Homo sapiens: one gene and its partner. The protein of the gene in region 1 interacts with the protein of each later gene in a pairwise test. Each region holds a gene or a part of one and is shown in the gene's direction. Other genes may lie near its edges.

The links.
Region 2: the proteins of SMAD5 (region 1) and SOX5 interact in a two-hybrid assay, tested with the Homo sapiens proteins (one large-scale study listed by BioGRID and IntAct).

Annotation. Positions count from the first base shown.
Region 1 is NC_000005.10:136,153,345-136,156,844, forward strand, and holds part of SMAD5 (mothers against decapentaplegic homolog 5), read left to right. Parts: intron 1-247; 5' UTR 248-416; coding exon 417-819; intron 820-3,500. UniProt on the Homo sapiens protein: Transcriptional regulator that plays a role in various cellular processes including embryonic development, cell differentiation, angiogenesis and tissue homeostasis.
Region 2 is NC_000012.12:23,939,671-23,943,170, reverse strand, and holds part of SOX5 (transcription factor SOX-5), read left to right. Parts: intron 1-3,500.

The DNA of each region.
Region 1 (3,500 bases):
ATAGGAGGTAGAGCAACCTGGTTTTGCCTCTGGTTATCATTTGACATTGCCAGTGTCTTACTTGTTCATATTATGGGGAAGGAATCGAGTGGTCACAGAACTTTTGGAGAAAATTTATCAATTTTTTGTTTACTTTGTAATGCTTTTCTGTTCTTATTTAATAAAATATGCCTTTCGATTATATTAATTTAAATTTGTATATATTGAATTGATTTAAACTAGGATCCTTTCCCCCTTTCTCTTTCAGGACTTGACCCAATGAAAGAAGCATATGGCACTTGTGAAGATAAATGTTACTCCTCCCTTTTTAATTGGAACTTCTGCTTAGGACCTGTGTATGACGTTTCACCTGTGATCTGTTCTTTCGGTAGCCACTGACTTTGAGTTACAGGAAGGTCTCCGAAGATTTGTGTCAAATGACGTCAATGGCCAGCTTGTTTTCTTTTACTAGTCCAGCAGTAAAGCGATTGTTGGGCTGGAAACAAGGTGATGAGGAGGAGAAATGGGCAGAAAAGGCAGTTGATGCTTTGGTGAAGAAACTAAAAAAGAAAAAGGGTGCCATGGAGGAACTGGAGAAAGCCTTGAGCAGTCCAGGACAGCCGAGTAAATGTGTCACTATTCCCAGATCTTTAGATGGACGCCTGCAGGTTTCTCACAGAAAAGGCTTACCCCATGTTATATATTGTCGTGTTTGGCGCTGGCCGGATTTGCAGAGTCATCATGAGCTAAAGCCGTTGGATATTTGTGAATTTCCTTTTGGATCTAAGCAAAAAGAAGTTTGTATCAACCCATACCACTATAAGAGAGTGGAGAGTCCAGGTAGGTCTTATTCCTGAGAAGAATTTGGAAAAACAAAAACAAAAAACCTCTCTTCCTGATATGCATGTAACTAGATTTAGTAATGAAAAGGTTGTATTAGCTTTGTGTTTCCATCTTAAATATTCTAATCTTGGAAGGGCTATTGGATTTTGAGTTTAGCTTTTTATATGTAGGTGATACAATTCTCAGGTGGCTTACTCTAATTCATTATTCACTGTAAGCACCCATATATCTACTCTGCCTTTTCCTGTGGATGACCTGTCTCTGTTTTATTTAAAGCCTAAGCTCCAAGTGTGTACTATATCCCATTCCTTTTTGTCAAATGAAGAACTTTGTTCCTACAGTTATCATCCTTCTCTCCAGCATTATATTTTCCCTTTCTACCAGAGTATTTCTGATAGCATACAAGCATGCCATGATACTACCCATCCTAAAATAAAACTTAAAAAAAAATTCTGCTTTTCACTTCATTCACATAACCCAACCCCAATCACTGCACTGTTTCCACTGGTCCTTTTAGAGGATTCTCCATTTTTATTATCTTTATGTTTCATTTTTTTCTTGTGACTTCTCTAGTTAGTCTTTCTTTCCTACCATTTAACTTGTCGAGATCACTAGTGACTGCCTTTTTATAGGTCAAGGGGTCATTTTTGAGTCTTATCTTACTGTCCGCTCAACTGCATTTGATACAGTTGATCTCCTTCCATCCTACTCAAAACTTTTTCTGTGTTTGGCCCCTAAGACAGTATGCTATCCTGGTTCTCCTACCTCACTGACTGTTCTTGCCCCTCTTTGCTGGCGTATTCTCCTGTTTTCACAGGAGTCAGTCCATGGACCTTTTCTCCATTTATATTATTTCTTTATGTGCTTTCATGCTGTCACATGTCTTAAGATTGTCTATAAGCTGATGCTCACATTTTGAACTCAAGTCAACTTCTCCCTTGAGTTTTAGATTTGTGTATCCAGTTGCCTACTTGACATTTCCACTTGAATATTTATTTATTAAACATACCAAATGTAATATGTCTAAGCGCAGTTTTTTTTCTCTGGTTTCCCCTATTGAAGTGAATGGCAACAGCATTCATGTAATTGCTAATGCCCTAAACTGCAAGGTCATCTTTTATTCTTCTTACTTAAATCCTATATTTAAAATATGAGCAAATGCTGTTTGCTGCACCTTCAAAATATGTCTTAATAAATATGTCACCTCTCATCATTTGTGACATCACTACTTTAGTACAGTACATCATCATCATCACTCACCTTAAGTAGTGTCCTAATTGGTCTTTCTGCGTCTCTTCTTCCCCTTAACCCATTGTGTTTTCCACACAACAGCCAGAATGATTTTTTAAAAACATACTAAATCATGTCAGTTCCTACTGAAAACACTTTCAAGGCTGTCACACTTAAAGAGATTTCTGTAAGACTCTGTATGACCTATCCTCAGAGTTCTCTGTTCCTTGGACTTGCCATACTCCTGTTTCCAGGCTTTAACTCTTGCTGTCTACTTATTCTCCCCCAGGATCTTTCCATGGCACATTTTCTCATTCCATTCAGTCCTTGCTCAAATATCCGCATCACTAATTGACTCTATATTAGATATTTATTTTGTTTATTGACTGACATGAGCAGAGTCTTCCTCTATTTCATTCATTACTCTATCCTTAGTGCTTAGAATAGTATATTGTTGTCTGGCACTTGGTAGGTGATGCTCAGTAAATTTTTTTTATAATGAATGGTATAAGCTGAGCTGCTAGCTGAGTGCATTAGTCATCTATTGCTGCATGACAGATTGCCACAAACTTAGTGGCTTAGCACAATGCATGTTTATTACCTCACAGTTTCTTTGGGTGAGGAGTCCAGTCACATTTAGCTGGGTCCTTTGCAAGGCGCTGTAATCAAGGTGTTGGTTAGGGCCAAGGTCTTATCAGAAGCTCAATTAGGGAAGGATCTGCTTCCAAGCCCATGTGATTGTTGACAGATTTAGTTGCTTTCACATAGCCTTCTTTATAGGTAGTTCACATTCATGACAGCTTCTTCAAAGCCAGTAAGGAAGAGAGGGTCTTCTGGTAAGAAGGACATTATATTCTTGTGGAATGTAATCATACATACGCTGTCACCTTTGCCATATTCTGTTGGTTAGAAGGAAGTGATAGGTCATACTCATACTCAAGCAGGGAGAATTACCCAATGGTTTGAATACCTGGAGGTGGGAATCACAGTGGTTACCTTAGAGTCTATCTGGGTTTCACGTGGAGATGTGTGGTAAAAAGACTGAAAATAACATTGGATGTGGAGACTAGTAGAAAGGATAGCAGATAGCAGTGATTATGCTGTCTGTGAAAGTTCAACTTAAGAGCTTTAGAGTGTCTTTAGACAGTTGGTATGATATGATTCTCAGTTTCTTACTGAGTCCAAGGAAAGCTGATAGCTGAAGGAACTGATGAAGAAAGGAAGATAAAAGGATTTAATAGAGAAGTATAGGCTGAAAAACTCCCAAGCTTGCTATTTGCTAGGAGGGAGTCTAGGAATTTTATGTATTCCCCTATAGCCAAAGTGTGACTAGTAGTCAGCCAGCCAATAGAAATGTCTTATTTTTTGTATACATTTTTCTCAGCTATGATTCATTCTATAGAAAAGACTGGGGCATAGCTCTGATACTTTTAAATAACGGAAAATTT
Region 2 (3,500 bases), on another chromosome or scaffold:
CATTTGTGAATGAGTTTTGGTTTCTTGGAGTTATAAAATGTGTGTAAACTAGTAAACCATGTCTCATTCATGTGCTATGGAGATTTCTCGTACTTCAGGGACAAAAATAATTTGGCTACTAACGAATTAGGGCTACCTGCCAGTGCCAACACATAGTGTAGGTAAGAGGAACACTATAAAGAAAAGCTGCTGGCAGCAAATCCGTTGAAACTTTCATATGTAACAGCGTTTCTATTTCTGCTCTTCACATCTTTGAAAGAAAGTGTGTTTTAGAAAAGAAAATGTTAAAAAACAGAAGATATGATCTTTCTTAAAAATGTATGTGTAGCTCCACTTTAATATTTCTCATTGTGGAGATGCATGGGGTTTCATTATGTCCTATGCACTCTTGGTTCCCCTACCTTTCCCAATCAATTCTGTCACATTGACCAACCTAAGGATCAGATGCATTGAGAGTAAGTGTAATAGAGAAGAAATGAAATTCACTGCATAGAGCCAAAAAAAAAAAAAAAGCCTCAGAGCCTTATATGATTTTGATATTGGCAGTTTAAGGGAGTTAGATCAATTGGGACACTGAGCAGCAATTTTATAAAGGATGTGTCCTCTCATTCAGGGCTTCAGGAACATTTTCAAGAAAAGAAGGGAAAGAGTTAACCTGTGTTGCCTGTTGTTAATTTCTTAGTGTAGGAGTAAAACAAGAGGTAGACCCAAATCATGTTTTCTTGTCATATTTTTAATCAAAATTTATTTCAGAATGTTGTCAGTGTTTACATTAGTACTGAGTTTGCCTTTTTGTTTTTGTTTTTGTTTTTATATTAAGTACAATTGAAATACCAGGGAGATAGGTTGTTTGAACACTGGTTGTGAAACTTTTACATAAGATCTTTCACGTACCATTTTAAGCTATTTTATATTTATCTAATAAAAGATCATCCTAATGAAAAAGAAATACGACACTGAAAATGAGAAATATTCCTTCACCTAGGAGAACACAAGATAAAAAAGTAATACTTTATTATACTATTAATTTTTCAGTCACAGTTAATTAGGTTGCTTGACAAAGTTCTAAAACACTTTTATTCTAATTGCAAAGTTAAAGTATTATTTGTTTGCCTACAATTCTTCCTTTGGTTATTTGCCCTGGGCCAGTGTTTGTTGGGCAATGGTTTTCAAAGTCCAAAGACTTTTTTTTCACTGCTCTCCTGAGGTCCCTTTGTCATTTTTTTTTTTTTATTAGCTAGTGAGTTTCATAATATGTTTGAAAAGAGGTTGCAGGGGGATGTCACATATAATTCAGGTTAATATTTCCTTCCTTTTTTCTTATCTGTACTCTAAGAGGTCTATGTTGGAGATTCGTTAGGATAAGGTATAGTATTCATATTATTTAGTGTAGAACGGAATGAACTGGTGCTCAAACTATTCAGTTTAGTATGCATTCACTAATTCAACTTTGATCTTGAGTGATAACTGAATATAAAATATCAGATTCAGATTCTTTGTCATCTATGATACAGCATTATCTATTATTATATTTTATGTAATATACAAAGTACCAATAGTCAGGCAGAACACCTAGGAATGGTAAAAGAAAGATAACTATGAATGCTATTCCTGAGAGTAGAACTTCTGTTTTCCTCCAGTCCTAAATATAACTACAATTTGGGAAATAGAGGAAAAGGTATTATTTTTAGGACCCTAAGGATTATGATATATAAATATTTATAGTACAATTATTTCTAAAAATGTTAGCATTACTTGAAAAATAATATGGATCTAATTTGACCTATAAACAGTTTAAGAACACTTAGTGCTTTAAAAGCATTCTTCTAGAGAAATAAAAGCATATCCAAAAGATCCTGATAGCAATTTAAAGAATCAAAGTGATGGGGCAACATATTTGGACTTTTATAAGTAAATTAAAAGATAATTGGAAGTCACTAACAGGTATGTGCAGGATTATTTTAGGGAATATAATAGTTATACGTGTGTGCACATGCAAAAGTTAGAAAGCCAGGAGAAACTTTTTCATTTATAGGGCAGTTGATCTCTTGAATGAATCCTGCCAAATTCTAATGAAGCTGCAGTTTTTTCAAAAAATCTTGAAAGGAAGAAACATTTCATAGAAATACAAACAAGGTTCATTCCCGTTTTCTTGTTTGCAGCTCAGAATCCTGTGGCATGTGCTACAGGAACATATAATAGTATTCCATCTTGAAAAAATTGAAGGTGGTATTGTGGTGCATATTTAATGGAAAATTTGAACCGAAGACGTTGGGTGAATCAAGGTATGCTTGAGTAACATTTGGGGATATTTGAGGTTTTAGGTTGAGATAATATGAAAGTTGAGTGTTCAGGGTCTAAAGCATACCTATCAAATGAATGAGTTTGTGTGTGTGTGTGTGTGTGTGTGTGTGTGTGTGTGTGTAATACTTATCTCCTCTGTAAATAAAATAATTTCCTCTTCTAGGTTAAGATTTATATTTGCCAGTATCTTCATTGATTCTTTTGGAAATGTAACATAGTACAAAGCGCTATTAGCTAGATGTTAAGATCTCAAGTTCTAGTTCTTCTTTAAAAACTGAGACCTCTTTGACTCTTAAGAGTATGCATCTGTAAAATTAGAAGATAGGATGGATAATTTCTAAAATCAGTTAACTCTAAAATTTCATTACTTTGAACTACATTTGCAGTGTCCCTAGCTCCTAACTCTAGTGGTCAGAATTCTTGCATTTATGTAGCTATTTGGAGATTATCTCTATAGCCAGCCTTTACATATAGAAGCACTTCAGTTTACCTGTCAATTAGGTATCATTACACAGGAACAAGCAGCCATGGTGTCTCTTAGGAGTTTTTAATCTAAATACCATGTATAATTCTTATTTAGGATTAGGTGCCCAACTTTGCTCTGAGCTATTTGAAGTGTTTCAAAAGATAAGATTCACATTCTATGATCCTGAAACTCTCAGGCATCAGATCACTATTCTGAACAATTATAAATATTGTAAAAGATAAATTATATATGGTTAAATGAACAAGACACTATGGGGAAATATGAAAAGCATACGAGTGGCACTTTAGGTCAGGGATCTAAAAGTCTGTTTATAAGGATAAAAGAAAAGAAAAAATATGAAGAATCCGCAGGAGAGCATGAGTACAGCACAGGGGCTATGGACAGTATATGTCTTTATATGAATAATTAAAACATTGGGCTGGAAAGTAGCAAGATCAACTAAGATTACAAACATGTAGTCCAAAGAAAAATTTTGAGTGTTTCTCAAAATAAATAACTATTAGCATTACCAGGCCAGCCAATTTGATATGCATTATACTATAGTTGCTAGTTGGCAATTTCAAGAAAAGAAATGTTAAACTCTGCAAAGCAAGGGAGTAGAGCAAAAAGCAATGAAGTATGCATTTAAAAAGCTGTATCGAGAGAACAAGCTTCATATATTGTTAATATATTTGGCAGGTCGCATGCTGTTTTTTTAATGCAGTGTTGG